Linked DNA regions of Homo sapiens. The protein of the gene in region 2 interacts with the protein of the main gene of each other region in a biochemical or structural test. Each region holds a gene or a part of one and is shown on either strand. Other genes may lie near its edges.

Region 1 (15,933 bases), on a different chromosome or scaffold from region 2:
CTGAAGTCAGACACACCCAGGACTGCTAGGTCCTGCATAGACGAGGTGACTGGTCTCAGCACTCAACTTCCCCTGGTGTGGGATCCTGGCTGACTTTCCGAGACTCAAAGGTTTCCATGCACAGCTGCCCTCAGTTACCACACAGGACAGATGTCTGCTTCCATTCATGTTTTAAAAGTATTCTTGTAATCGAGCCATAGTTAAAATGCAATGGGGGAGTTCAGTATTTGGGAAAAATCGGTAACAATTTCTTTAATAACTAAAGTTCATCTAGCTAACTATTTAATCTAGCTTTTTTTAAATTTTGAATTCCTGATCTACCAAATAAAATCAGGTACATAAAAAACAAAAAGTCTCTTTATCCAATTTATTGGATTAACTTACTTAAAAAAAGACTTCACTCATTAAAAATACAAATGTTTCCAAATCTGATTTTTGAAATGACTCAAATTTTGAGAATTTTAAGCAAGTGGGGGGTTATGTATTAATACTCCATGTACTATCACTTGGCCAGATGGTATCATCAAATAAAAATGAGATATACACTCATAGTAGGAATTAGAACACCTCCCGAATCCGTTTCTCATTTGGATACTATAAAGTCCAGCAACGTCTTTTAAATCACTCTTAGGATGGTTTTTAAAACAAACCAGCATACCTTTATAACCATTCCTACATCAAACTGAATCAGGGGCTCTCAATCATGGAGCATCATTCAACGTTAGTAATGGAGGTTCTTACAACCAAAGCTTTTTGACCAGAATAAGACATCTCACACAGGCTGGAATACCCACAGCGTTAAAAAATTCAATTTTATTTTCTTAGACTCTTTCACAAAATGACTGTGTTTAAACTTTCACCTAACTATTAGTGAGTTTAAAAACAGTTTCTGCTACAAAAAACAGTGTCATTTAATCATTCATTCATTCATTCACTCATTCATTATGTGATTATGCTATTGAGTGGTTTTGCTAGCGGCTGTATTCACTTGTGTGGTTCTATTCACACTTTCAGCTGACATTCCACACTTCTCTGTGCTGATATACATATATATCTTATTTATTTATTTATTTATTTAGAGACAGAGTCTTGCTCTGTCACCCAGGCTGGAGTGCAATGGAGTGATCCTGGCTCACTGCAACCTCTGCCTCCCGGGTTCAGGGGATTCTCCTGCCTTAGCCTCTGAAGTAGCGAGGACTACAGGGGCCTGCCACCAGGCCCAGCTAATTTTTTTGGTATTTTTAGTAGAGACAGGGTTTCACCATGTTGGTCAGGCTGGCCTTGAACTCCTAACCTCAAGTGATCTGCCCACCTCAGCCTCCCATAGTGCTAGGATTACAGGCATGAGCCACTGCACCTGGCCAGGACTTTTAAACTCAACAGGTTAAAAATCACATTTAGGCCTGTGCATGGTGGCACACGCCTGTAATTGCTGCATTTTGGGAGGCCAAGGTGGGTGGATTACCCGAGGTCAGGAGTTCGAGACCAGCCTGGCCAACATCATGAAACCCCATCTCTACTAAAAATACAAAAAATTAGCCAGGTGTGGTGGCGGGCACCTGTAATCCCAGCTATTCAGGAGGCTGAGGCAGGAGAATCGCTTGACTCCGGGAGGTGGAGGTTGTAGTGAGCCGAGATCGCACCACTGCACTCCAGCCTGGGCAACAAGAGCGAAACTCTATCTCTAAATAAATAAATAAATAAATAAAATAAATCACATTCAGTGTTTCTTCCCTACCTTCTCCCTTGTTCGCACAGCACGATGACATGTGCATGCTCACACACACACTTGAACTCCACGGCTTGGCTAATGACCCATCAGCCTTCTAGTCATCTTCTTCAACTCCCCTTGTCACTCCCCATCCCGCCCCATCTGATAGGTCCATTTTTCTCAAAACACTCCTTCCCTTGACTTCTGTGACACCACCCTGTTTAATACATATCTCTAAATGAGAATTGTTACTTTTTGTGCTTTCGAAAAATCTACGAAACAAATCTTGAGATATATTTGCTCAGCATTGGAGACCTAGAAATGTCTGCAGATGAATGTTAAATTTGCACAGCTGTGCCTCTTTGATCACTTTCCGAAGGCTCCTCCACTAGCCCACAATTCTCCTTTGAGTCCCTGAAATTCTAACTCCAACTTCCTCACTTTGTCTCCTTAATTGCAATAAAGCCTCAATAGCTGAGGTTACTGGTCTGTGGAAGGTGCTCTAACAGTAGATTGAAGGCAAACTCTGATTTAAAAATACCTGATTTCAAACAATGGTTGCTTGTGAACGGGGGCTGCAGCTCCTATGAGGAGGGATTGCTGTTAGCAGGCTTCTGTTCCAGGTCTGAGACACCCAGAGAGTGACATTTACTTACTTTTCATAAGCAAATGTCCACACACACTTAGACACCCTAGAGAATTCACTTGGCCAGCACCCAAGGAGAGAGGAATGAGAGAACAGAAAATTCACTGAGCAGGTGTACTTTCTCACTCAATGGATGTAACTAGCCAAGATGAAATAGTGATCTCAGGACAAGAACCCTGAAGTTGCCACCCCATCTACAGAGCTGCGTTTGAGGGGATTCTCAGAGTTGGAAAGGCTGGTTGAAATCTGAAGGCTTCTGGGCAGCAAAAAGGCAGTGCTCTCCAGAGGCTGGGGTTCCCTCAGATCATATCTGATCAAACCCAAAGAACCTATTCATATTAATCGGATGCATGGAAGCTACTTGAGTTAATTGGATACACAGATCAACAATCCACTCTAAATTGACAAGGGTGGATTATTATGCTTTTCTAGTGTCCAGAATATACATTTTTACTATCCAAAATACCACATATTAGATGGAATCAACATTCCTTGGAAGTTGGCCTAGACATTATAAGATTTTGGGAGAACTAAACAATTCCCTAGGTGAATTCCTTGGAACACTGGATCCAGAAGATACTTCATGAGAAAGAGTGTTCTGTGGCCAAATAAAGTTGGCAAGCATCCCATACTATGGTGTCATTCTAAAGAGTCCCAATGTATGGTATAACAATAAAGACTCCTTAAAGTCCTGCCATAAAAAAACAGACAACATTAGCATTTCCCTAACATATTTTATCACTGTAACTCATTAGTGATTGTTTAGCAAAACTGCATCCTAAAACACAACTCGGTGAATCCTGCTCTGTACATACACTGCATGGAGTGTGCCTCTGGGCAGGTTCGCCTTTAGCAAGTCCACTGTGCTGCGGCAGAATGACAGACTAATTTTAGGCTTTCATTTCCTCACCTACAAAATGCAATGAATACTACTGTTGTGAGAAACGACTGAGATACTATTTGTAAATCCATTTTATAATGTGCTACAAAAATGTTACCTGCTTTCTTCAGAGGCATTACAGTCCTGAGGGTATACTTCTTGCTGTGCAACTTCTCAAAATGCCTTGACAAAGGGACACTTTTGTTCATTCATTCATTCAACACCCCCTCCTTGAGTGGTAGGTCTTAAGGGCTATGGCCTGGTTTTGGACCCTGGGAAGCTTACAGACAGTGGGCAAGTGAGGTCCACTGTATTGCTTTAAGAGATACATACACATACACACACACAAGGAATTCTGGTGGCAGTGAGGGGGTGTCTTACTGGGGAAAGGAGGACAGGGTCGGGGAAATCTTTCTTGCTGAAACTATTAGGATTCTTGAAGGTTCATTAGGTAGGTTGGATATACAAGGGGAATTGGGCACAAGGTCAAAGCACTATAATACAGAGAGTATGTGAAGAATGGGCCTCCCATTAATGGGTCACACGAGCATGGACCTCTCAGGGTAGCATACCCTGTGTTTCATCTGTGATACCTGATTCATCTGTGTCCTCCAAGCAGAGGAAGAGGGTTTAGCTAAGCAAGGAGGTTCTTTCTGGAAAGTGGAAGTCCTGAAGTGGGTAGTGACCCTTGACTTTGGATAAGGTGTATGGCAGGACACCTTGGGTGGGGATAAGAGTGCTGCTGCGAAGTTATCTTTAAATAAGCACACGCCATAGCCATCCTGGGAGTCAAGCTCCCTCCCACCTGCCCTACACTAGAGGTCAAGTGTGGGCTATTTCAGTTTCCTCCTCTGCTCTGATGAACTGTCTGCAGGAGAATGTTTCCAGACAAAGGTCTTGATAGCAGGTTGGTTTTCCCCGTGTCTCCAGCCTCCAACTACTGAGAGCAAGTCTCCAAACCCAAAAGCTCCTGTCAACAGCCTTCTTCCCAAGTTCCAAAAGCAAGGGCCCTTCACTGTCCCGGGACCCTACCCATCCCTAGCCTGTGATGCTCTCTCTGGAGGTGCCAAAGCACGGGAGTGCATGAGTATTCCAGAGGCAATATTGGAACCTGAGGCAAAAAGGAAAATTAGCACCTCTATATCCACTTATGACAATATCCTCCTACATTTGAATTAGGTAAAAAGTTAATAAAAGCTCTGCATTCAGTGAACGTGACTACATCTGAAGCCAGAGTTGCTCAATCTGTTGCATGCCACTGTCAACTCTCAAACCACCAGGCAAGGGAACAAACAAATGGGGAGGTGGGGGAGGGAGACTGGATATGACTGTTCCCATTGAACAATGAAGCAGGGTTCTTTTTTTTTAGACAGAGTTTCACTCTGTCACCCAGGCTGAGTGGAGTGGCACAATGTCGGCTTACTGCAACCTCTGCCCCCAGGTTCAAGTGATTCTCCCACCTCAGCCTCCCGAGTAGCTGGGACCACAGGCACATGCCTTCAGGCCCAGCTAATTTTTGTATTTTTAGTAGAGATGGGGTTTCACCCTGTTGGCCAGGCTGGTCTTGAACTCCTGACCTCAAGTGATCTGCCTGCCTTGGCCTCCCTAAGTGCTGGGATTACAGGCATAAGCCACTGCACCCGGCCTATGAAGCAGGGTTCTAACAACACCCACCTGTATTTAAAATGTTGATTTTTGCTTATCATGAATTTTTTACATTCAATTTGGTTTTGTTAAAAAGATTGTATTAAAATACTATTTATCTTAATGATGGAGTGCTGCCCTGTGTGTTTCTTTTTTCCCAGTAAGCCCTTTGCACTCCCAGCAAGTGTTTCTTTTTGCTTCAGTATTTACAGTCCTTTTGGTCGAAGAGTACTCTGATGTTTCCTTACCGATGACAGCGTGTTCCTAAGAAACCCCAATGTGCCCAAAACCGCGCAAGGAAGTGCCGCTACACTGCGGAATTAGGAAAGCCCCAGGGATTTAAGAGCTCTGAGAAGACAGGCGCCTCTCAGGGCCCAGGGGACCGATCTTGCCCTGTATTTCTTGGCAACATATCATAGGCTTTCAAGCTGAACTTCTGCAAATCCTGCTGTCCCCGCGCGGTCGAGGGGCGCGCCACCGCCGGTGGGTGGACGCCGAGCTGGTGGGAGCCCAGGCCAAGGGTGGAGGCCAAGCCCAGAAGGGGGCGGGGAGGCCTCAAAGTGGGAAAGTGGCCCCGTCCCTTCCCGGCAGGAATCCGGGGCTCCTCCTCCGCCCGCTGCGCAGCCATCAATCACCGCGACAGCCCAAGTGCCCCCTGCCCGGACACAACAACCCTCCTGCTTTTCCACCCGGGGGAGGAAATCTCCGGTCGGAGCATCTGCCCTGCACACTGGCTGGACTCACCAGTGGGGTCCGCGCTGGGGATCAAAGCTGTGCGACACCGGGTCTGACCCGCGCGCTCAGGCGCAGGGAGCACTTGACACCCCACAGGCAGCCCTGCAGGTAGAACTCCTCAAAGGTCCCTACCAAACTCCGTCCGGTGCACACGCACGCACACCCGCACCTCCGCACCTCGAGCCATAGTGCCTGCACCCTCCAGCTGTCCCTCACCCCAGCCCCGCACAGGTCAGCTGAGGACACCCGGTGACCCTGCCGGGACCAGCGGCCACCTCGCGCTCCGGAATGTCACTCTGCCCCTTGTCCCCACTCCCTGATCCCCCTTCCCCCTTCCGTTCCCCACGATCCCCGAGGACGCGCTCTGGCTGTCTTCCTCAAGTCCCCTCCGGAGTAGGGAGAGAGTGCGCACAGCAGCACCCACGTCTGGAACCCCAGAGAGCCCCGCCCGTGCCCGGAGCCTCTCCGGGCTCTCTAGGTGCGGGCACAGGGGGTGGGGTCTCCGCTGCCACCGCCCCTTACCTCTCGCGGGCCCTCCCCGCAGGTCCCGGAGGCGGGGGCGACCGGTGGCCCCAAAGACGAGCGCGGGGCTGGGTTTCCCCGCCCGGGAGGAGCAAGAGGAGGAGGAGGAAGAGGAGGAAGGGGGAGAAAGGAGGGGAGGGGAGGGGAGAGGAGAGGAAAGAGGAGGAGGGGAGGGAAGGGCTTTGTGTTTGCCTCGGGCCGTCCCTCGGCAGTAGGGAGCCATCCCCCTCCCCCAGCCACCTTCCTGAGCTCGCAGAGGAGATGGGGCGGGGGTGATCGGATCGGAGGCAGCGACCAAGGCGCCTGCGCGACCCCAGGTCCGGCCCATCCCTCCATTCCCTGTAACCGCCAGCCTCCGCCCCTCTTGACAACCACCCGCTACGCTTACCCTGTTACAAGGAACCCAGGCTGCAACCAGGAAAAACTGCCATCAGAAAGTTTATCTAAGCCGGAGCAAACTTGGCTGGACCGGCCCCTGACCCGCCTTGGCGCTGCCGCCCCTGTCTTCTGCGGTCCCCGGCCAGGCGAGGACCAGAGTTTTGTTCTCGGAGATTCTTGCCTTTCTTGTTTTAGCACAAACGCGCACGCACCCCTTTCCCATAACGAGCCCCTCCGCCCAACTACAGATCCCGGGATCTGTTGCAGGGGCTGGAAAGGCCCCACTCGAGAGGCCTGAGCTGGCTGCGGCTCTTGGTTCCGGGGCAGGTTCTCCAGGGTTGGATACGCTCTGGACGCCTGGGCGGGTTGTTTTGCTTCGGCCTCGCTGGCCAGGGGCCCGCCCACCCCGCCTGGAACGCGGTTTGGATCGGCGCTGGGAGCCCTCCGTAACCCCAGCTGAAGGCCGCGCAGGCAGGCGGGGACGCCGGAGCTGCGGGGCCGGTTCCCAGCCAGCATCCAGCCTTTTCGGAATCAGGCGGGTCCCTGGTGATTCGCTGGGTTTTCCCACTTCCCACGGGGACCTCACCTTTGGGAATTAATTGCTGACAGTGTTAGAGTTACAAAGTAGCCAGTGTCACGGAGGGAACCTCAAAGAGACAAAGGGACACCTCGAAGGTGTCAGAGAGACGGTTGTTTTGGACAGAAACAGAACAGCGAAGCGGAAAGAAAACAGACCTTATTTCTGTTCTGTTCCACTTCAGATAGTAGCAGAGGAGACTTGGATTTCATTGGTGTTGGTTTTCGTGATTCCTGCCTTCTAAAATCCCAAGACTTATTTATCATTTATCATCAGCTCAGATCCCAGGAAAACAGTCCACTGCACTTCGGTTTCTGCTCCAAGTCACCCATTAAATAAATAATTGAACACCTGCTGGTGCCAGGCGCAGTTCTAATGCTTGGGATATGTCGGTGAACAAAGCAAAGGTCTCCCTCACCTGGGGGAGCTGAAGGCCTGCGGGGAAGAAGTGGGAGACAGAGGGTAAACCATGGCCATCCCTAAGTAAATTATTTGGGGTGTTGGAAGAGGTCGGTGATAGGGAAAACAAGAAAAAGAATATGGGGGCCCAGAGTGCTTGTGTCTGGAGCAGGTCACAGAATTAAATAGATGGTGTGTGTCAGGCCTCTGAGCCCAAGCCAAGCCATCGCATCCCCTGTGACTTGCACGTATACATCCAGATGGTCTGAAGTAACTGAAGATCCACAAAAGAAGTAAACATAGCCTTAACTGATGACATTCCACCATTGTGATTTGTTCCCGCCCCACCCTAACTAATCAATGTACTTTGTAATCTCCCCCACCCTTAAGAAGGTTCTTTGTAATTCTCCCCACCCTTGAGAATGTACTTTGTGAGATCCACCCCTGCCCACAAAACATTGCTCTTAACTTCACCGCCTATCTCAAAACCTATAAGAACTAATAATAATCCACCACTCTTTGCTGACTCTCTGTTTGGACTCAGCCCACCTGCACCCAGGTGAAATAAACAGCCATGTTGCTCACACAAAGCCTGTTTGGTGGTCTCTTCACACGGACGCGCATGAAATTTGGTGTCGTGACTCAGATTGGGGGACCTCCCTTGGGAGATCAATCCCCTGTCCTCCTGCTCTTTGCTCTGTGAGAAAGATCCACCTACGACCTCAGGACCGACCAGCCCAAGAAACATCTCACCAATTTCAAATCCAGTAAGCGGCCTCTTTTTACTCTCTTCTCCAACTTGCCTCACTATCCCTCAACCTCTTTCTCCTTTCAATCTTGGCGCTACACTTCAATCTCTCCCTTCTCTTAATTTCAATTCCTTTCATTTTCTGGTAGAGACAAAAGAGACACGTTTTATCCGTGGACCCAAAACTCCGGCGCCGGTCACGGACTGGGAAGGCAGCCTTCCCTTGGTGTTTAATCATTGCAGGGATGCCTCTGTGATTATACACCCACGTTTCAAGGGTGTCAGACCACGCAGGGACGCCTGCCTTGGTCCTTCACCCTTAGCGGCAAGTCCTGCTTTTCTGGGGAAGGGGCAAGTACCCCAACCCCTTCTCTCCTTGTCTCTACCCCTTCTCTGCCTTTCCTGGGGCAGGGGCAAGTACCCCTCAACCCCTTCTCCTTCACCCTTAGCGGCAAGTCCCGCTTTCCTAGGGGCAAGAACCTCCCAATCGCTTATTTCCGCACCCCAACCTCTTATCTCTGTGCCCCAATCCCTTATTTCCGTGCCCCAACCCTTTCTCTGCTTTTCTGGAGGGCAAGAACTCCCCACCCCTTCTCCATGTCTCTACTCTTTTCTCTGGGCTTGCCTCCTTCACTATGGGTAGGCTTCCACCTTCCATTCCTCCTTGTTCTCCCTTAGCCTGTGTTCTCAAAAACTTAAAACCTCTTCAACTCACACCTGACCTAAAACCTAAATGCCTTATTTTCTTCTGCAATGCCGCTTGACCCCAATACAAACTCGACAGTAGTTCCAAATAGCTGGAAAACGGCGCTTTCAATTTTTCCATCCTACAAGATCTAAATAATTCTTGTCGTAAAATGGGCAAATGGTCTGAGGTGCCTGACGTCCAGGCATTCTTTTACACATCAGTCCCTTCCTAGTCTCTGTGCCCCGTGCAACTCGTCCCAAATCTTCCTTCTTTCCCTCCCTCCTGTCCCCTCAGTCCCAACCCCAAGCGGCGCTGAGTCTTTCTAATCTTCCTCTTCTACAGACCCATCTGACCTCTCCCCTCCGCGCCAGCCCAAGCTAGGTCCCAATTCTTCCTCAGCCTCCGCGCCTCCCCTCCCTTCATCCCACACCTGGTCCGACTTATAGTTTCATTCTGTGACTAGCCCTCCCCCACCTGCCCAGCAGTTTACTCTTAAAAAGGTGGCTGGAGCCAAAGGCATAGTCAGGGTTAATGCTCCTTTTTCATTATCCCAAATCACATAGCGTTTAGGCTCTTTTTCATCAAATATAAAAACCCAGCCCAGTTCATGGCTCGTTCGGCAGCAACCCTGAGACGCTTTACAGCCCTAGACCCTAAAAGGTCAAAAGGCCATCTTATTCTCAATATACATTTTATTACCCGATCTGCTCCCGACATTAAATAAAACTCCAAAAATTAAATTCCGGCCCTCAAACCCCACAACAGGATTTAATTAACCTCGCCTTCAAGGTGTACAATAATAGAAAAAAGTTGCAATTCCTTGGCTCCACTGTGAGACAAACCCCAGCCACATCTCCAGCATACAAGAACTTCCAAATGCCTGAACCGCAGCGGCCAGGCGTTCTTCTAGAACCTCCTCCCCCAGGAGCTTGCTACAAGTGCCAGAAATCTGACCACCAGGGCAAGGAATGCCTGCAGCCCAGGATTCCTCCTAAGCCGTGTCCCATCTGTGCGGGACCCCACTGGAAATTAGACTGTTCAACTCACCTGGCAGCCACTCCCCGAGCCCCTGGAACTCTGGCCCGAGGCTCTCTGACTGACTCCTTCTCGGCTTAGCGGCTGAAGACTGATGCTGCCCGATCGCCTCGGAAGCCCCGTAGGCCATCACGGACGCCGAGCTTTGGGTAACTCTCAGAGTGGAAGGTAAGTCCGTCCCCTTCTTAATCAATATGGAGGCTACCCACTCCACATTACCTTCTTTTCAAGGGCCTGTTTCCCTTGCCTCCATAACTGTTGTGGGTATTGACAGCCAGGCTTCTAAACCTCTTAAAACTCCCCAACTCTGGTGCCAACTTAGACAACACTCTTTTAAGCACTCTTTTTTAGTTATCTCCACCTGCCCACTTCCCTTATTAGGCCGAGATATTTTAACCAAATTATCTGCTTCCCTGACTATTCCTGGACTACAGCCGCATCTCATTGCTGCCCTTCTTCCCAATCCAAAGCCTCCTTTGCGTCCTCCTCTTGTATTCCCCCACCTTAACCCACAAGTATAAGAGACCTCTACTCCCTCCTTGGTGACTGATCACGCACCCCTTACCATCTCATTAAAACTGAATCACCCTTACCCCGCTCAACGCCAATATCCTATCCCACAGCATGCTTTAAAAGGATTAAAGCCTGTTATCACTCGCCTGCTACAGCATGGGCACCTATAAACTCTCCTTACCATTCCCCCATTTCACCTGTCCTAAAACCAGGCAAGGCTTACAAGTTAGTTCAGAATCTGCACCTTATCAACCAAATTGTTTTGCCTATCCACCCTGTGGTGCCAAACCCATATACTCTCCTATCCTCAATACCTCCCTCTACTACCCATTATTCTGTTCTGGATCTCAAACATGCTTTCTTTACTATTCCTTTGCACCCTTCATCCCAGCCTCTCTTTGCCTTCACTTAGACTGACCCTGACACCCATTAGGCTCAGTAAATTACCTGGGCTGTACTGCCGCAAGGCTTCGCGGACAGCCCCCATTACTTCAGTCAAGCCCAAATTTCATCCTCATCTGTTACCTATCTCGGCATAATTCTCATAGAAACACATGTGCTCTTCCTGCTGATCATGTCCGATTAATCTCCCAAACCTCAATCCCTTACAAAAGAACAACTCCTTTCCTTCCTAGGCATGGTTAGTGCGGTCAGAATTCTTACACAAGAGCCAGGACCACACCGTGTAGCCTTTCTGTCCAAACAACTTGACCTTACTGTTTTAGCCTAGCCCTCATGTCTGCGTGCAGCGGCTGCCGCTGCTTTAATACCGTTAGAGGCCCTAAAAATCACAAACTATGCTCAACTCACTCTCTACATTTCTCATAACTTCCAAAATCTATTTTCTTCCTCATACCTGACACATATACTTTCTGCTCCCCGGCTCCTTCAGCTGTACTCACTCTTTAAGTCCCACAATTACCATTGTTCCTGGCCCGGACTTCAATCTGGCCTCCCACATTATTCCTGATACCACACCTGACCCCCATGACTGTATCTCTCTGATCCACCTGATATTCACCCCATTTCCCCATATTTCCTTCTTTGCTGTTCCTCACCCTGATCACGCTTGCCTCGTGCTATCCCCAAACTGCCATTCTTAACTCTTGAAGTAAATAATCTTTGCTGGCAGGGCTATGCTGAATCTCCTTAGGCACTCTCTAATCAGATGTCCTGAGTCGTCCCAATTCTTAGACCTTTTATACCTGTTTTTCTCCTTCTCTTATTCCATTTAGTTTTTCAATTCATACAAAACCATATCCAGGCCATCACCAATAATTCTACACAACAAATGTTTCTTCTAACAACCCCACAATATCACCCCTTACCACAAAATCTTCCTTCAGCTTAATCTCTCCCACTCTAGGTTCCCACGCCACCCCTAATCCCGCTCGAAGCAGCCCTGAGAAACATCGCCCATTCTCTCTCCACACCAACCCCCACAAATTTTCACCGCCCCAAGACTTCAACACTATTTTGTTTTATTTTTCTTATTAATATAAGAAGGCAGGAATGTCAGGCCTCTGAGCCCAAGCCAAGCCATCGCATCCCCTGTGACTTGCACGTATACATCCACGTGGCCTGAAGTAACTGAAGATCCACAAAAGAAGTAAACATAGCCTTAACTGATGACATTCCACCATTGTGATTTGTTCCCGCCCCACCCTAACTAATCAATGTACTTTGTAATCTCCCCCACCCTTAAGAAGGTTCTTTGTAATTCTCCCCACCCTTGAGAATGTACTTTGTGAGATCCACCCCGCCCACAAAACATTGCTCTTAACTTCACTGCCTAACCCAAAACCTATAAGAACTAATAATAATCCACCACTCTTTGCTGACTCTCTTTTTGGACTCAGCCCACCTGCACCCAGGTGAAATAAACAGCCATGTTGCTCACACAAAGCCTGTTTGGTGGTCTCTTCACACAGACGCGCATGAAAGTGTGGTCAGAGTAGTCCTCAGGGAAGGTGGGATTTGAGCCGTAAGGGTTTGAGCAGAGGATAACCTGATCTGTTATTGCTGAGAGCTCAGTCTAATGCTGTTTGGAGAGCCCACTGTCCGGGCAGAGGTGGAAATAAGCGAGGAGGCGATTGAAATAGTTCAGGCTAGAGATGGTGGCTGGTAGCAGGCTCAGAGCAGGGGTGGTGGAGAGAGGTAGTTGGATTCTTAATTATTTTGAAGGTTGAGCTGACAGCAATTCCTAAGAGGTTGGATACATGGGCAAAAGGGAGAAGTGGACAGACAGGTAGACCTGGCCCCATGTCCCTCTCTCTTCTCTTCCTTTTTCAGCTGCAGAGGGACCCGGTTTTATAGATAAAGGGTGCCAGGTAAGTGCTGAAGACACCCGGCCTCTGCTCCTTTCTTCCTGTCAAGTTTTCCTTTCTCCCCTTCCACCCACTCTCTTGAAAACATGCTTCCTCTGCCCACATTGCTCCATGCATGGATGGTCCTAGAATCTCAGTCTTTTCCAGAACTTGGGGGCCATTTTGCTCTGCCCTTCCCCAGGAAAACATCTTTTACCATAGAAATGAATTCGGGGGTTATTTATTCAAAAGTGTTTATTGAGTACCTACTATGCGCCAAGCACTGTCATAGGCACTGGAGCTACAGCAGTGAGCTAAACAGAAAAATCCCCTTGTTCTCTCTGAACTCACAATCTAATCGGGAGGGAGAGGCAATAAACCAGACAAACAAGGTGAATGTGTGGTAGTCAAGCCACAGTATTCAAGCTAAACCAGGAAGAGGAAGAGAGAGTGCTGGGGAGGCTGCACTTATAACAGAGATACTCATCAAAGAAAACCCGTGAGGACACATGGACTTATCTCATTTTTGGCAGATTTGACCTCCCATCTGAGGGTCCCAAGAGACTCAAGTGGCCGCTTCAGTCAGCTGCAGAGAGCACAAGTGCTCATGGGGCACTTTTGCAGGCTTGGGGACCAGCTAGCCAAGAAAATGTCATTTCTAATGAAGTTATTTCCCCTTTAAAGTAAACCAAGCACTGTTGGTTCTGGAAGCATTGCCCAGAGCTGGCAACTCAGCAATTTGTTTCTCTCCTCTCCTCTCCTCTCTGCTGAGCAGAACAGGTAGAAGTGAGTGTCATGTGTAAATGATTTGAAAAGTGCAATTTTTTACTCTGGACCCTGCGCTATAAAATCATCATCATAATCATTATGGCAATTCTTTTTTGTTGGTGGCTGCTGATACTGGGTAACATTACCCTGCTCAAGCACCATAGCATAGCTACCCCAGAAGACAGTAGAGAATATCAGAAGATACTTAACTATTTCCATGTATTAGAAATTACCTAAACAGTGCTTATATAACTGCATCTCCCTCTCCAAAGATATGGTTCACAAGAGAGAGGAGTTTCTAAGAAGGAAGGGACATTGAAAAAGATACATTCTTTCTACTTTTTAACTTATATCTTTGTTTCAGAATCTCAAAGAAAGGAGTCAGTGATTATCCCTGGAGTGTGGGATTACTGGGCCCTTAACATTTTTTTTTTCTTTTGGAGACAGTCTTTCTCAGTCACCCAGGCTGGAGTGCAGTGGTACAATTTTGGCTCATTGCAACATCCACCACCCAGGCTTAAGTGATCCTCTTACCTCAGCCTCCCAAGTAGCTGGGACTACAGGCGAGCACCAACATGCCTGGCTAATTTTTGTATTTTTTGTAGAGACGGGGTTTCACCATATTGCCCAGGCTGGTCTCAAAATCCTGGGCTCGAGTAATCCGCCTCCCTTGACCTCCCACAGTGTTGGGATTACAGGCATGAGCCACTGTGCCTGGCATGGGCCCTTAACTTTTCAAGTTGCATGTTTATGAATTATTTAAATATTTAAAATATTATATGAATCCTTAGTTAATCTGAAGAAAAAGCATTACCGGAAAGGGATCCCGATCCAGGTCCCAAGAGAGGGCTCTTGGCTGTCATGCAAGAAAAAATTGGAGGCAAATCCATAGAGTAAAGTAAAAGCAAAGTTTCTTAGTAGCCGCTTAGGCTACTCAGCTGCTTATGCTTATTGTTACTTCCTGATTATATGCTAAACAAGGAATGGATTATTCATGAGTTTTCCTGGAAAGCAATAGGCAATTCCTGGAGCTGAGGTTTCCTCCCCTTTTTAGTTCATATAGGGTAGCTTCCAGATGTTACCATGACATCTGTAAACTTTAATGGAGCTTGTGGGAGTGTCTTTTAGCATGCTAATGTATTATAATTAGCATATAAAAAGCGATGAGGACAACCAGAGGTCACTTTCATCCCCATCTCAGTTTTGGTGGGATCTGGCGTGCTTCCTTACCACATGCTGTTTTATCAGCAAGGTCTTTGTGACCTGTATCTTCTGCTGACCTCCTGTCTCATCCTGTGACTAAGAATGCCTTAAACTCCTGGGCATGTCACCCAGTAGGTCTCAGCCTTATTTTACCCATCCCGTTTTCAAGATGGAGTCGCTCTGGTGAGAGAATTGAAAACACAAGTGTGAAGGCAATCTTGTATATAATTACTTAAGATTTTGATATCCTCTTTGACTTTAGTATTTAAATCACTTAAAAATTTCCAAGGGTTGAGATTTCCTTGTTGTTGCTCTTTAAATTTTTGTTATTAGTTTCCAGGTTTATTGCATTGTGGTGAAGAAATGTAGCTTGTTCAATTTCTGCTTTTTTTTTTTTTTTTTGGAAATTAATTGGGGCTTTCTTTGTGATCTAGTGTATGACCAATTTTGAAAAAAAATCTCCATAGTTATCTGAACAAAAGGCATATTAAGCAAGCCCCATAATCTAGTTCTAGGCTGAGCATGTAGTAGCTGTTAAAAAATTGTTTATTTTTTAACAATTTTAACATGTGAACATGAGCAATAATTAAACGTTCATTCATCTTGCATATTTATTCTAAGTCTTTATGTCATTTACTTTATTATTTCATCTTCCAAACAGTCTTCTAGACTATATTCTGCCTTCTCCCCTACCCATCTTTGTGAAGAAAATGGATTTAGGATGGGTGTATTAACATCTTCCATTTCAATCAAAATTCTGACATTTTTCTTTGACTTTCAACTGCTCTTATTCCAGCATTTTCATGCTGTGTTACACAGTACATAAATATGTATGTGTACTGTCACGTTGCCATGGACTACATAGTTATTGGTGTAATAAAACTCCTTTGCCCCATTCAATGTGTTTCCCTTGATCTATTCTTTGACTGAAATTCATATCACGATCCCTGCTTTCTTTGTCTTTGTGTCCATGTAGTAAATTTTTGTCCACCCTTTGTTTTAAGTCTCTCTGCATCATTTTATTTTGAAAGAGTACATTTAAAGCGACATATACCACGATTGGATTTTGTTTTAAACCCAACTAATGAATTTGGTTTAATTTCTGCCATCTTGTTTTATGCTTTCTGGGTTTTATGAAACCCTGCCAATTCCTAAGTTCTGTGTTTTTGGTAAAACTGAC
Region 2 (15,979 bases):
GCTCAGAATGTAGGGTGGGAACGAGTATTGCCTTTCCACTCCCATGCAGCACAACAGCTAGGCAAAATCCTAGGTTCCCTCCCCTTAATTAATACCCCTTTGAGCCAGCTAGCCTAGATGCATAATTTAATGACAACTCCCTCAAGATGACCCCATGTCCACTCAGTCCAACACACAAATGTCAGAAAGCTTAATTATAGGGGAGAGGGTAAGTTAGTTGGGGGCTTTTGGGTTGTGACACTTGAATAGTCCCTTACCACAAATTTAATTGCTCCCTCCTTCCTGTTTTCACACTGGTACCCCCACAGCTGGTACCTCCCTAACCCTCTGCTCTGGAGTTTTCTCCTGACTCCTTTGAAAATCTCCTGGCTGTCATTAGGGTCACAGTGTTGCTGTATTTAACTTGGTGTAGAACTGGGGAATGAGACAATGAATGTCCTCTGTTGACGTTTTCAGAGAGGGCTGGTTTGGAAAAAAAGAGGTCCCAGGAACAGAGGAAGTGTTAGAGAGGAACTCCACGGGCCACCTTACTTCATACTCCACCATACGTTTGTTGGCCAGGTCAGCTTTGTTCCCTGCCAGGGCAATAACGATGCTAGGACTGGCCTGTCGCTGTAGTTCCTTCACCCATGTCTTTGCTCGGGCAAAGGTTTCCTAGGAAAACATGAAGAGAATGAGTAGGCTGGAATGACTGCCAATCCATATCCATCACCTTTTAAAATGAGTCTCAAAATTCACCTCTTCTAGGTGGTCTTCCCTCAGTGAAACCACAGGTCTCTGATAATTCATTATCTGTCTTCTTAGCACTTGGAAGCATAATTTGTACTCTTATTTGCTATTTCAAGAACCCGTTTTCTGCCCCCTTACCCCCTGCCCCAAACTAACTCCTCTAAATATAAGCAAGGACAGTCTTTTTTCTTTTTTTTTTGAGGCGGAGTTTTGCTCTGTCGCCGAGGCTAGAGTGCAGTGGCTCGATCTCGGCTCACTGCAACCTCCGCCTCCTGGGTTCAAGCGATTCTCCTGCCTCAGCCTCCCGAGTAGCTGGGACTACAGGCGCGCACCACCACGCCCAACTAATTTTTGTAATTTTAGTAGAGACGGGGTTTCACCATGTTGGCCAGGATGGTCTCAATCTCTTGACCTCATGATCCTCCCGCCTTGGCATCCTAAAGTGTTGGGATTATAGGCGTAAGCCACCATGTCCAGCCAACAAGGACAGTCTTCTTAGCTCACTTACCTGATTAGTAATGTCGTAAACCACGATTGCAGCTTGGGCACCCCTGTAGTACATGGGGGCTAAGCTGTGATATCGCTCCTGCCCAGCTGTGTCCCAGATCTCAAACTTCACTGTTGTGTCATCTAGACAAACGGACTGGGTGAGGAAGGCCGCTATGGATGAGAGAATGGAGGGGAAGATGCTGTAAGTGGGAGGATGAATGGGAACATCCCTCCCCCCCTTCAAAATGTAACTGCCCTACACTAAGACCAGTCACCACCCAGGATAGTCAGCTACAGGAAAAGGTTTTGAGTTCTCCTTACATGTAAGTCTTGAAACCAGGATTAAGACTGCCCTTGGCTAAGTCCTTCCTGCCAGAAATGTCACTAGCTAAGGAATGGGGGTACATCATAAACTAAGAGGGACAGAAGAACTGGCACTTATACGAGTCATCCTTCTTCTAACCAAAATAGGAGAATAACAAATGACAGAGAAAATAGCTTCAGATAAAAGTCACATCAAGAATTAATTAGAAGATTGGGCTGGGCACGGTAGCTCACGCCTGTAATCCCAGCACTTTGGGAGGTGGGGGCTGAGGCAGGTGGATCACCTGAGGTCAGGAGTTCGAGACCAGTCTGGCCAACACGGCAAAACCCGTCTCTACTAAAAATACAAAAATTAGCCAGGCGTGGTGGTGGACACCTGTAATCACAGCTACTCGGGAGGCTGAGGCTGGAGAATCCCTTGAACTTGGGAGGTGGAGGTTGCAGTGAGCCAAGATGGCGCCACTGCACTTCAGCCTGGGCAACAAGAGCGGAACTCCGTCTCAAAAAACAAACAAACAAACGCAAACAAACAAAAGAATTAATTAGAGGATTGGCTGGGCGCAGTGGCTCATGCCTGTAATCCCAGCACTTTGGGAGGCCAAGGCAGGTGGATGGCTTGAGGTCAGGAGTTCGAGACCAGCCTGGCCAACATAGTGAAACCCCGCCTCTACTAAAAACACAAAAGTTAACCAGGCATGGTGATGGACGCCTGTAATTCCAGCTACTTGGGAGGCTGAGGCAGCAGAAGTGCTTGAACTGGGGAAGCGGAAGTTGCAATGGGCAACCACTGCACCACTGCACTCCAGCCTGGGCAACAGGGTGAGACTCAGTATCCAAAAAAAAAAAAAAAAAAAAAAAGAATTAATTAGAAGATTTTAAAGCTTGATGGCAAGTCCCATCATTATCAATATTATTTGGCTGTTACTTTTTCATATAATCTGCTGCAGGTCCAGGAATACATTTCCAAGATGACTAATAAAAAGGGGAAAGAGGCCAGGCACGGTGGCTCATGCTTGTAATCCCAGCACTTTGGGAGGCCGAGGCGGGTGGATCACTTGAAGTCAGGAGTTTGAGACCAGCCTGGCCAACACGGTGAAACCCTGTCTCTATACAAATACAAAAATTAGCCGGGCATGGTGGTATGTGCCTGTAATCTCCGCTGCTCAGGAGGCTGAGGCACGAGAATCACTTGAACCTGGGAGGCAGAAGTTGCAATGAGCCAAGATTGCACCACTGCACTCCAGTCTGGGCGACAGAGACTCCGTCTCAAAAATAAATAAATAAATAAATAAAAATAACAAGGGGAAGGAATAATTTGGAAGTTCTCATAAAAGATCCTTTATTGAATTAGCACCCTATTTTGGGGTAGTAGTGGGGAAAAGGTAGCAAAGATGAGAAAGACAGACACCCTTTGTATTTTGCATTAGTTCCAGCCTCTATTTTACCAGATTTTTTTTTGTTTTTGAAACAGTCTCGCTCCTTCGCCTAGGATAAAATGCACTGGCGTGATTTTGGCTCACTGCAACCTCCGCCTCATGAGTTCAAGCGAGTCTCCTGCCTCAGCTTCCCAAGTAGCTGGGATTACAGGCATGTGCCACCATGCCCGGCTAATCTTTGTTGTTGTTGTTGTTGTTTTGTTTTTTTGAGACGGATTTTCACTCTAGTCACCCAGGCTGGAGTGCAATGGCGCAATCTTGGCTCACTGCAACCTCCATCTCCTGGGTTCAAGTAGTTCTCCTACCTCAGCCTCCTGAGTAGCTGGAATTATAGGCATGTGCCACCACGCCCAGCTAATTTTTTGTATTTTTAGTAGAGACGGGGATTTCACCTTGTTGGCCAGGCTGGTCTTGAACTCCTGGCCTCAAGTGATCCGCCTGCCTTGGCCTCCCAAATGCTGGGATTACAGGTGTGACCCACCATGCCCAGCCTATTTTACCAGATTTTGATTTTTTTTTTTTTTTGGAGATGGAGTTTTGCTCTTGTCGCCCAGGGTGGAGTGCAGTGGCGCAATCTCGGCTCACTACAACCTCTGCCCCCTGGGTTCAAGTGATTCTCCTGCCTTAGCCTCCCGAGTAGCTGGGATTACAGGCGCCTGCCACCACGCCTGGCTAATTTTTTGTATTTTTAGTAGAGACAGGATTTCGCCATGTTGGGCAGGCTGGTCTCGAACTCCTGACCTCAGGTGATCCGCCCATCTTGGCCTCCCAAAGTGGTGGGCCACTGGGACCGGCCTCTGTTTTTATAAAGGGTTTCCATTTCTGGGGAAAAGAATGGGACTAAGAGGGCCAGCTCCATAATCAGGTCTTATATCTCTTTTCAAAAGCCTTACCGGCCCGGCGTGGTGACTCACGCCTGTAATCCCAGCACTTTGGGAGGCCGAGGCAGGCAGATCACCTGAGGTCAGGAGTTTGAGACCAACCTGGCCAACATGATGGTGAAACCCCCTCTCCACTAAAAATACAAAAATTAGACAGGTGCCACGGTGTGCACCTGTAATCCCAGTTACTCGGGAGGCTGAGGCATGAGAATCGCTCGAACCTGGGAGACAGAGGTTGCAGTAAGCCAAGATTGCGCCACTGCACTCCAGCCTGGGTAACAGAGCAAGACTCCATCTAAAAAAAAAAAAACCCTTACCAAACATTCAATCTCCTATTACCCCAAGGCACTCACCTCCAATGGTGCTCTCCTGGTACTCATGGAACTGCCCTTTGACAAAACGTAATACCAGGCTTGACTTTCCCACTGCAGATTCTCCCAGCAGGACCAATTTGAACTGGCAAATTTTGCTGGCCTGGGGTTGCCCATTGGGCCTAGCTGTGCTTCTGCTAGTCATGGCCAGATTATCAGAATGGGAAAGGGTGGAGGGAGGGGGATACTGTAAAGGGGGGAGGGGGAAGGGGAGGGGATTTCCAGGCTTCAACACTCCTGCAAGAAAAAAAAGTGAATAAAATTAAACATACGTCCATTGAAGCTGCAATCGCTTTTCAGAGAAGGATAGAACCTCTTCATCTCCTTGCTTCTATGAGGACTTAGCTCTGAGAAGGTCCCAGGCAGCTGATCCTCAGTGGTAAGAGTTGGGAAGAGCAAAATAAGAACTGCTTCTGGAGTCTGCCCTACCACATAATCTCTAACTGCCAAGGGAGCCGAAATAGAGAGACTGAAAACTGAGAGTTTTTAATTCCCCAGTAATTCCCCACCAGGTCTTCAAAGTTTTTTGTTTGAGTCACACAAAGTGATCAACCTTTAGCTGGCCTGAAGAATATCCAGATCCACCCACCGGTACCCTAGATCCCCAGTATCTCCTTGGCATCCTGGTGCTGTGCTCTTCTTTTCCTTTTCTTCTTTTTTTTTGAGACGTCACTCTTGTTGCCCAGGCTGGAGTGCAATGGCACAATCTTGGCTCACCACAACCTCTGCCTCCCGGGTTCAAGCAATTCTCCCACCTCAGTCTCCCGAGTAGCTGGGATTACAGGCATGCACCACCACGCCTGGCTAATTTTGTATTTTTAGTAGAGACGGAGTTTCTCCATGTTGGTCAGACTAGTCTAAGAAGTCCTGACCTCAGGTGATCTGCCCGCCTTGGCCTTCCAAAGTGCTGATATTACAGGCATGAGCCACCGTGCCTGGCCTTCTTTTCATTTTTCCTTAGCTCTTTGTCAAAATGAGAGATTCACTCTAGGGGTGTGGGATAAGAGTCACCACTCCTAAGGGCAGAAGGGTAGTTGCTGCTGTATCCTTTATATATGACCGGTCTCCCTGATAAGACATTTCTAAAGATCTAACCAGGGTCCCATTGCCACAAAATCTATCCTTTCTCATTTTTGGTTGAAGGTAAAGAGAGAAATACAACCAACAGATCACATTCATTATCAACTCTTTGTTTCATTAACAACTCTTTTTTCACTTTGTTTCTGCCATCTTTCCAAATCTGAAAGTCTATCAAGAATCAGTAAGCTTGACCTACTCTCAACTTGCAGCTGTCTTGCTGGTGCCTAGGGATTAGATTACCCTCCACACCAAAGGGGCCTAACAGCTGTAGCCCTCCAAATTAGAGGCAGAGAAAGGTATACCTTCTAAAGACATGCAGAAGTCTCCAGAGGATGGTATAGGGCGTTAAGTCTGCAAGCAATCAGTATTTGATGAAAGAATACACTGAATCAGCTCCTCTATCTTCTAAGAGGGCTAAGAAAGCTGCTGGTGGGGCAGGGAACAGAGAGAAGAGTTGGGACTTTGAGATTCTAATCGTCTAAATCTGAATACATTTCATCATCCTGACTCTGAGCGGAAAGGAACTATGAAATTCAAAGGGAAGTTAGCATAGGCAGAGCATGCAAAAACCTCTCTCCCAAACCTAAGCATTGCTTGAGAGTTGTACTTTGCTTGTTCAAATTACTCTTTCGCTTTTCCAAAGCAGATCCTAGTGACTTCACAGACATCATACTCTATGGCATATGTGGGGAAACATCATTATTTTGTCACCACAATTAGTGGGACTGGAGTTAAACTGGGGTTAAAAATTTTCAGTAACCCCACTTACTAGATCGTAAAGACAGAAAATCATACAGGAGGCAATTCAGAGGAATAAAGGCTCTGGAGTCCAATTCTCCACGTTTGTTTTTCAGCTCTACTTACTAGCTATGAACCTTGAGCAAGTCACTAAATATATGTGTGCATTCATTTCCTCATCTGTAAAATGAGATAATAGCCTTATAAGCACCTACTTCATAAGGGTGTTGTAAGGATTAAATGAGATAATGCATATAAATAACTAAAGTATTTTAAGTATTTGATAGATACTAAGTGCTAAATAAATATTAAGCTACTAATCATTACTAATATGATATAAAGAGAATTTCTCTACCTCTCTAAGCCTTACCTTCTACCTTTGTAAAATGGAAAAAATACCATCCTCATAGCTACAAATAATAAGTGAAAGATGTGTTTAGCATAGTGCTAATAGCTATTAAAATATATCTCAATATTAGTTGTTATCAATATATTCCTAAAAAGCAGCCACAGCCTGGGTGCAGTAGCTCATACCTATAATCCCAGCACTTTGGGAGGCTGAGGTGGATCACCTGAGGTCAGAAGTTCGAGCCCTGCCTGGCCAACATGGTGAAACCCCGTCTCCACTAAAAATACAAAAAAAATTAGCTGGGTGTGGTGGTGCATACCTGTAATCCCAGCTACTCCAGAGGCTGAGGCAGGAGAATCGCTTAAACCCAGAAGGTAGAGGGTGCACTGAGCTGATGCGCCACTGTGCTCCAGCCTGGGTGACAGAGCGAGACTCCGTCTCAAAAAATAAAAGGCGGGCACAGTGGCTCACGCCTGTAATCCCAGCACTTTGGGAGGCAAAGGCAGGCAGATCAGGAGGTCAGGAGTTTGAGACAAGCCTGGCAAACATGGTGAAACCCCGTCTCTACTAAAAATACAAAAATTAGCTGGGCGTGGTGGCGCGTGCCTGTAGTCCCAGCTACTTGGGAGGTTGAGGCAGGTGAACTGCTTGAACTTGTGAGGTGGAGGTTGCAGTGAGCTGAGATTGCACCACTGTACTCCAGCCTGGCGACAGAGCAACAGCGAGACTCAGTCTAAAAAAAAAAAAAAAAAATTAGCCGGGTGTGGTTGGTGGCCGGCATTTGTAATCCTACTCGGGAGGCTGAGGCAGAACTGCTTAAACCCGGGAGGCGGAGGTTGCAGTGAGCCGAGATCGTGCCACCACACTCCAGCCTGGGTAACAGAGCAAGACTCCACCTGGGGTGGGTAGGGGGGAGATCGGGGGCAGGGAAGAAGCCACAATATGAAAGTGGTACAGAGAAAGAAAAAGAGAAAAAACAGGCCTGGCAGAGCGGCCCATGCCTGTAATCCCAGGGGTTTGGGAGATAAAAGGGGAAGCCTTGCTTGAGGTGAGGAGTTTGAGACCAGCCTAGGCAACATAGCGAGACTGAGTCTCTAGAAAACATTTAAAAAAATTAGCTGGGCATGGTGGTATGTGCCTGTAATCCCAGCTACTCCAGAGGCTGTGGTGGGAGAATCACTGGAGCCCAGGAGTTGAAGGTTGTAGTGAGCTGATTACACCACTGCACTCCAGCCTGGGCGACAGAACAAGACGCTATCTCTGGAAAAAAAAAAAAAAAAAAAAGGAGACATAACTAAAGGGTAAAGAGGAAGTTAGCAAAAGAATGAGAGGTGAGAACTCAAGGTCCCAAAGTAGACTAGATTAATACAGAGGAACATGACAATTACTTTGATTCTACTGGGTATTCTGTAGTCCCCTTGGTCAGTCAGTCTTAAAAATTCAGATATACATGTACCATTTTATGATTAAGTTTTCAATGGCCTATGACGAAAGGATCAAAATAAAGATGATACAGCAAATTTTTCATAAAGCTAAATTTATTCAATTTAAATGAGTATCTTTAATTATAACATTTTAAAATTTATTTTCCATTTTTAGAGAGAGTCTCACTCTGGTGTTTGAGAGGTCAGGAGTTTGAGACCAGCCTGGCCAACATATAGTGAAACCCCGTCTCTACTAAAAAATACAAAAATTAGCTGGGTGTAGCGCCACATGCCTGTAGTCCCAGCTACTTGGGAAGCTGAGGCAGGAGAATCGCTTGAACCCAGAGGGCGGAGGTTGCAGTGAGCTGAGATTATGCCACTGTACTCCAGCCTGGGCAACAGAGCAAGACTCCGTCTCTCAAAATAAAAAATAAATAAAAGAGAAGACAGGTGACACCATAATAAAAAAAAAAGGACAGATGATAAGCTGATCAAGTTTCCTTCAGGTGACATATATATGCTATACTCTCAAGAAACAATAGAAAAAGTTACTGGTTTTTTCAACTTACTCCCTTACATTTTTATGTATTTCAAAGCATGTGATCCAAGGGGTAGAATATTAAGCCTCAATGTTACTACTCTACAATAAAGGAAAATGTGGGAGTTAGAATGGACTGAATTCTCATGGCTAAACATATCACTTGAGCTCTGGGGGAGTGTAAAGACAGGAAACAATTGCAGACACGCTTGAGTTGCAAAGTCTCTGTCACTAACTCTCAGAGATGGGAAGTCAAGCCAGAGCCCAGATGTGGTCAGCAAGCTTTCTTGCTACTAAGCAACCTTGGATTCTCAGAGATCAGTAACTACTGACTTAGAAAAGACTACCTCGTACCCTAATATGTAGCCTTAAGAGTATGTTCTGGCTGCACATCATGGTTCACGCCTGTAATACCAGCATTTTGGGAGGCCAAGGCAGGAGGATCACTTGAGCCCAGGAGTTTGAGACCAGCCTGGGCAACATAGTGAGATCCCACCTCTGAAAAAGAAAGAATATGTCCTGCCTTCCTCCCTGTTCACAGCAATTGTTGAGCCACCTCTAAGCTTTGATCTTTAATCTTATCATGTTTATAAGGGTATCATTTAAAAAATATAATAGCTAGACTCTCAAAAATTCTGTGGTACAGAAATGAAATAATACATATAAGATTCAATTATTTATTTTCTATTCTCATTTTTTCCCACAAAAATACTAATTTTTTTTTTTTTTTTTGGTAAACCAGTCAAGTGGTATGATGATTATTACCTTCAAACCCGAGACAAAAAAAAGGGAGATGGGGCAGGTTTCTCTTCCTTTCAACCTTTTTAGCTCAGAAGAGAAGAAATCAGATTTAACTTCCCTTAGAAGTGCAGCTCTGCCGGGTGCAGTGACTCATGCCTGAAATCCCAGCACTTTGGGAGGCTGAGGTGGGCGGATCACCTAAGGTCAGGAATTCAACACCAGTCTGGCGAACATGGTGAAACCCCGTCTCTATTAAAAACACAAAAATTAGCCAGGTGTGGTGGCTGACACCTGTAATCTCAGCTACTTGGGAGGCTGAAGCAGGAGAATTGCTTGAACCTGGGAGGCAGAGGCTGCAGTGGGTCGAGACTTTGCCACTGCACTCCAGCCTGGGTGACAGAGCAAGACTCCATCAAAAAAAAAAAAAAAGAAGTACGGCTCTACAAGAATGACTTATAAAATGACCCATTAACTAGGGAGGATTGAGGCCTGACCATGGGTTAGCCCACTAGATGCAGGAGACCCATGGAGGATGTTCTTTAATGTGGGCAACTCTCCCAAGCAGTGCAGCAAAGTAGGCATAACAGTAAAAGTGTCTTAGCAGTCCCAGCTAGAGTAAGACTCCATTCCTCAAGCCCCCTTCCACTTGTTAGCTTTGAGTCCCTAAACCAAATACATATGAAGTCTCCAGAAGTCTATCACCTATCAACAGAGACAGAGTTCTCGGTATATATAGCCACTGGAGTCCAACCCAGTACCAGTTGTCAGCCTTAAGGTCAGTCAGGCAGATCAGAGCCAGTCTAGAGGTCATTTAGTCCAGTCTCTATATTTTATAGGTGAGGAAACCGAGACACATACAATTAGTCAATTTGGGCTAGGCGTGGTGGCTTACACCTGTAATCCTAGCACTTTGGGAGGGCGAGATGGGCAGATCACCTGAGGTCAGGAGTTTGAGACCAGCCTGGCCAACGTGGTGAAAACCTGTCTCTACTAAAAATACAAAAATTAGCTGGGTGTGGTGGTGCGTGCCTGTAATCCCAGCTACTCAGGAGGCTGAGGCACGAGAATTGCTTGAACCTGGGAGGCAGAGGTAGCAGTGAGCCGAGATCACACGACTGCACTCCAGCCTGGACAACAGAGCGATTCCGTCTCAAAAATAAATAAATAGCCCCATCCCTTCCCCGGCTCCCCCGGTGTCCGCCATGGCCAAAGCCTACGACCACCTCTTCAAGTTGCTGCTGATCGGGGACTCGGGGGTGGGCAAGACTTGTCTGATCATTCGCTTTGCAGAGGACAACTTCAACAACACTTACATCTCCACCATCGGAATTGATTTCAAGATCCGCACTGTGGATATAGAGGGGAAGAAGATCAAACTACAAGTCTGGGACACAGCTGGCCAAGAGCGGTTCAAGACAATAACTACTGCCTACTACCGTGGAGCCATGGGCATTATCCTAGCATACGACATCACGGATGAGAAATCTTTCGAGAATATTCAGAACTGGATGAAAAGCATCATGGAGAATGCCTCAGCTGGGGTGGAGCACCTCTTGCTAGGGAACAAATGTGACATGGAGGCCAAGAGGAAGGTGCAGAAGGAGCAGGCCGATAAGTTGGCTCGAGAGCATGGAATCCGATTTTTCGAAACTAGTGCTAAATCCAGTATGAATGTGGATGAGGCTTTTAGTTCCCTGGCCCGGGACATCTTGCTCAAGTCAGGAGGCCGGAGATCAGGAAACGGCAACAAGCCTCCCAGTACTGACCTGAAAACTTGTGACATAAAGAACACCAACAAGTGCTCCCTGAGCTGAGGACCCTTTCTTGCCTCCCCACCCCGGAAGCTGAACCTGAGGGAGACAACAGCAGAGGGAGTGAGCAGGGGAGAAATAGCAGAGGGGCTTGGAGGGACACATAGGTAGATGGTAAAGAGAATGAGGAGAAAAAGGAGAAAAGGGAAAAGCAGAAAGGAAAAGAAGGAAAAGAGAGGAAGGGAGAAGGGAGAGGAATGAATTGAGGAAGTGAACGAAGGCAAGGAGGTAGGAAGAGAGGGAGGAGGAAAGGAAGGAGAGATGCCTCAGGCTTCAGACCTTACCTGGGTTTTCAGGGCAAACATAAATGTAAATACACTGATTTATTCTGTTACTAGATCAGGTTTTAGGGTCCTGCAAAGGGCTAGCTCGGCACTACACTAGGGAATTTGCTCCTGTTCTGTCACTTGTCATGGTCTTTCTTGGTATTAAAGGCCACCATTTGCACAAAAAATAAATAAATAAATAAAAAATAAAATAAAATTAGTCAACTTGTCAAGTGTTACCATACAGCCAACTGCTAAGCAGTAAATGTAGGACTCCTAGTCAGGTACTCCTGCCTCTTATACCACTATACTTCTTAAGGAAGCAGGAAATGCTGAACTCTAAAGAGAACACCAGGACAGGATCGAGAGCTTAGACTGGATAGAGTTCCTGCCTCTATTCAGTTTAGGTAAGTACTTGCTTTGGGACTAAAAACAAATTAAGAAGACCCAGGCCTTCCTTGGCAACTGGGATGCAGTCCCATATCTTTCTGACAGAAGAATTAATTCATCACTACTCTTTTCTAGAAGGTCTATGACCAAACCCTGCCAGGACAGTTGAAATAGAAGCAATTCAATGAGAGGCAATAGGAAAACAAGCGGTAACTTTTGCAGAATTTGGTGGGCCCTGCGATTAATGTGAGAGTTTTACTAAGTAGGGAAGATAGAGCAGAAACCAGTAAATACCTTCATCTCCCTCTCCAACTCTGTTTAAACCCAAGTCACCAAAATCTTGAAATGAGAGTTCTACCACTTGGCTCAGCTCTTCATTTTGTTGATCCAGTGTTACCTAATGAGTCATTGGATTAAATGAGATTCCTTCCACATCTCGCACCCTTTCCCTTATATTTCTCCAAGAGGCAAAAAGCATACTTACCTCTTATCAGTATGGTAGTACAAACTCCCTATTATTGACCTAGGTAAGATTGGAATGCCCGTCCCTACTTGTCTGCCTAGCAAAATTCTATATATCTCATAAGACCAAGCTCAAATGTTACTTCAGTGAAATTACATAATCACCCTCTCCCCCACAGAATTAATCATTCTCTAGAGGCCCGTAGGGTCCCACAGTATTAAGACTGTATTTCTGGCCAGGTGTGGTGGCGCACACCTGTAATCCCAGCACTTTGAGAGGCCAAGGCAGATGGATCACTGGAGGTTAGGAGTTCGAGACCAGCCTGGCCAATATGGTGAAACCCCGTCTCTACTAAAAATACAAAAATTAGCTGGGCATGTTGGCACAGGCTTGTAATCCCAGTTACCCAGGAGGCTGAGACATGAGAATTGCTTGAGCCCGGGAGGCGGAGGTTGCAGTGAGCACAGATTGCACCACTGTACTCCAGCCTGGACAGCAAAGCAAGAATCCGTCTCAAAAAAAAAAAAAAAAGACTGTATTTCTATAATAGTATGTATCACATTATCACAGTATATAAATTGTGTCTGTCTGCTCTGCTAAACTATGAACTTCTTTAAAAGTGGGAGTTTATCTTAAAATCTTCAGAGCACAGCATGCTGCCTGATCCCTAGTAGGTGCTCATTAAATGCTCCCTAAATTAAGGCTAAGTAATTCTACTTCTCTCCCCCAATCAACTCCTCCCTTTCTGTACCATCTGGACAGATCTTACTCAATTCCATTTGGGTTCTTTTTTTTTTTTCCTGAGACGGAGTCTTGCTCAGTCGCCCAGGCTGGAGTGCAGTGACGCGATCTCGGCTCACTGCAAGCTCTGCCTCCCAGGTTCACGCCATTCTCCTGCTTCAGCCTCCCGAGAAGCTGGGGGACTACAGGCGCCCACCACCACGCCCAGCTAATTTTTTGTATTTTGTTTAGTAGAGACGGGGTTTCACCGTGTTAGCCAGGATGGTCTCAATCTCCTGACCTCGTGATCCACCCGCCTCAGCCTCCCAAAGTGCTGGGATTACAGGCGCATGCCACCGCACACGGCCCCATTTGGGAATATTTTTAATAGGCCTCAGAATCAATTCTCTCCCTGGCTCCTCTGTGATCTCCCTTGGATGGAGGGCCCCCTTGGGATCTTGCCCACAAGGTACTATTGCAACTCGCATGGGCTAACTGCTTTTCCTGTCACCCGTTACTATGCCTCAGATGGCCTAATCACACCCAATATGTGGCCCTCCCACCCAAACACTGAGGCAACTATAGCTAAAAACAAAGTTCGCTGAATTTTCAGTTGATGTTGAACGGTCAAAAGCTTTGGGCCACTATCTATTAATTCCTGACTTGAGAAACACAAGTTTAAAAAAAGGAGCCATAACACCACAGAACCAGGAGACACTCTGAAAAGGTACCCACTGTCCCTGAACAGAAGCTACAACCTTGCCCAGAAATGTACACATACTTTGTTCACCTGGGTAGCTCCTTATTCAGTTCAGTTACTGTTGAGTCAATGGCTAAATCTTTCCCAAAACGGAAGTGGGAGTATACCATGTAGGGTTTTATGGTATCCTTCCTCCAAGAGGGCTGCTGCATTTCCTTATTATAAGTTCATTGTCTCACACTTTGGTTACCTTCCAATCTGAAATGCTTTAGGATTAGGGAGCAAACTATACGCTTGCTTCTTCTACCCTATGCCTCCTTCTCAGAAGTAAAATTCATACCAATAAGCAATATTTGCTCCCAGGTAAAGTAAGAGTTAGAAGATATGAGGTATGTTATGCAGTAGGGATTGTCCAGGAAAAAAATTTTAAAAGATATGAGGTATGACTTGAAGGGCAATGGGAAAGCTCTCTTCTCCAAATATATTTTTGCAACTCCAGGTCTATGTATGAAATTCCTTATTGATAATTCTACTCCTAAACTCTCTTAGGATGCAAAAAACTGTTGGAAAAATTAGATAGGATTAAAACACACACACACACACGCACACACGGCCAGGCGCGGTGGCTCACTCCTGTAATCCCAGTGCTTTGGGAGGCTGAGGCACGTGGATCACCTGAGGTCAGGAGTTAGAGTCCAGCCTGGCCAACATGGTCAAATCCCGTCTCTACTAATAATACAAAAATTAGCTGGTCGTGGTGGTGCACGCCTGTAATCCCAGCTACTCTGGAGGCTGAGGCAGGAGAATCGCGTGAACCTAGGAGGCAGACGTTGCAGTGAGCCGAGATCATGCCACTGCACTCCAGCCTGGGTGACAAAAGTGAAACTCCGTCTAAAAACACACACACATACTCCTACACAACTGTCTCTAGGACTGGCTTGCAGGTGAGAAAAGTTCCTTGGGGGAAAAAACCGAGGTTTCCAATGGGCGCTGTACAAAGGCTGGGTACAACAGAGGGCTTTTAAAGCTAGTAAGGACAAATTCAATTAATAAGGTGGTAGTATGAAATGCCCCAGCTGTACTCTGACTCTGAGATTTAGAGGAAAACCGATTTCAAATCCAGATAAGCTTGGAGCTTCTCAGATCCCTACAGAAAGACACACACTGTACTCCAGCCTAAGTGACAAAGCAAGACCCTGTCTCTAAAAATAGAAGAAAAGAAAAGAAAGACAAATACAGGGGCCTCTTAGGAGAACCATCATCATCATGGATAAGAAAGGGATAGTCAAGTAATGTGAACATGCAGAGACCATGAACATCCAGAGACCATGAATTTGAGATAAGGGTCTGAAATTCCTTTCTTTAGCAGAGATGCCAACAATTATCCCAACCAAAATGATCCTTTCTCCCCATAAAGTTTTGTTCCATCTCTTTGGGCACTTCCTAGGACACCCAGCACACAACTTGGGGTGTGTGTGTTTGTGTGTACTCAAGGTGAATAACACACAGTACAGCCCTCTGCTTGTCGGACTTGGTAGAAGACAAAATGAACTGTGAAAGGAACACAATAAATAACAGAGTATCATCCCAGAAGGGAAAACTGTAGAAAGAATAAGACTAGAGTTTGATGAGAACATGAAAACACAATTGCCTTTTGTGACACATCCCCCAAAGCAAAGCAAGATTAGTCTGATTTGCTGTCTCTGATCCTTGACCTTCCTAAATGAAATATGAATAAGGTATGTGTGGGAGGATTTATACTTCTTAAACTGCTGTACACCTTCCATATTTTAAAATATGTACATATTAACTTTTGTAATTAAGAAATGTAGTGATGGCCGGGTGTGGTGGCTCACGCCTGTAATCCCAGCACTTTGGGAGGCCGAGGTGGGCGGATCATGAGGTCAAGAGATTGAGACCATCCTGGCCAACATGGTAAAACCCTGTCTCTACTAAAAATACAAAAATTAGCTGGGCGTGGTGGCGCACGCCTGTAGTCCCAGCTACTTGGGAGGCTGAGGCAGGAGAATCTCTTGAACCTGGGAGGTGGAGGTTGCAGTGAGACTCCGTCTCAAAAAAAAAAAAAAAAAAAAAAGAAATGTAGTGATAAAATATATTGGTAGAGACGCAGAAAAGGAGGAAGTACAGTAAGGGAAAATCCAATAGGCTCCAATCTATGAGGGACTAAGAAGGCTAGCAGACCATTAAAAATATGTGGGGAGGAGGGTACTCCACTCCTCTGCTTTGGCAATCTTTGTCTTTTTTTTTTTTGGAGACAGGGTCTCATTCTGTTGCCCAGGCTGGAGTGCAGTGGGAAGATCATGGCTCACTGCACCCTCGAACTCCCGGGCTCAAGTGATCCTCCTGTCTCAGCCTCCCAAAGTGCTGGGATTACAGGCGTGGGCTACTGCACCTCTGTATCTTTTTCTCTACTCACCATCTTCCCCAGATACTTCATAGTTTGACCCAACTTTCTAACAGCACAGAAATCTGGGCTTTTGAAGTAGACAAAGAACAAGGGGTGATGCC

The links.
Region 1: the proteins of RAB5B (region 2) and RIN2 form a complex in vitro, tested with the Homo sapiens proteins (one study listed by BioGRID).

The regions. Positions count from the first base shown.
Region 1 is NC_000020.11:19,748,533-19,764,465, reverse strand, and holds the start of RIN2 (ras and Rab interactor 2), read right to left. Parts: upstream 6,209-15,933; 5' UTR 6,139-6,208; intron 1-6,138. UniProt on the Homo sapiens protein: Ras effector protein. May function as an upstream activator and/or downstream effector for RAB5B in endocytic pathway. May function as a guanine nucleotide exchange (GEF) of RAB5B, required for activating the RAB5 proteins by exchanging bound GDP for free GTP.
Region 2 is NC_000012.12:55,975,357-55,991,335, reverse strand, and holds part of RAB5B (ras-related protein Rab-5B), read right to left. Parts: intron 11,965-15,979; coding exon of another isoform or gene 11,862-11,964; intron 4,468-11,861; coding exon of another isoform or gene 4,376-4,467; coding exon 4,213-4,375; intron 1,390-4,212; coding exon 1,238-1,389; intron 655-1,237; coding exon 532-654; intron 1-531. UniProt on the Homo sapiens protein: The small GTPases Rab are key regulators of intracellular membrane trafficking, from the formation of transport vesicles to their fusion with membranes.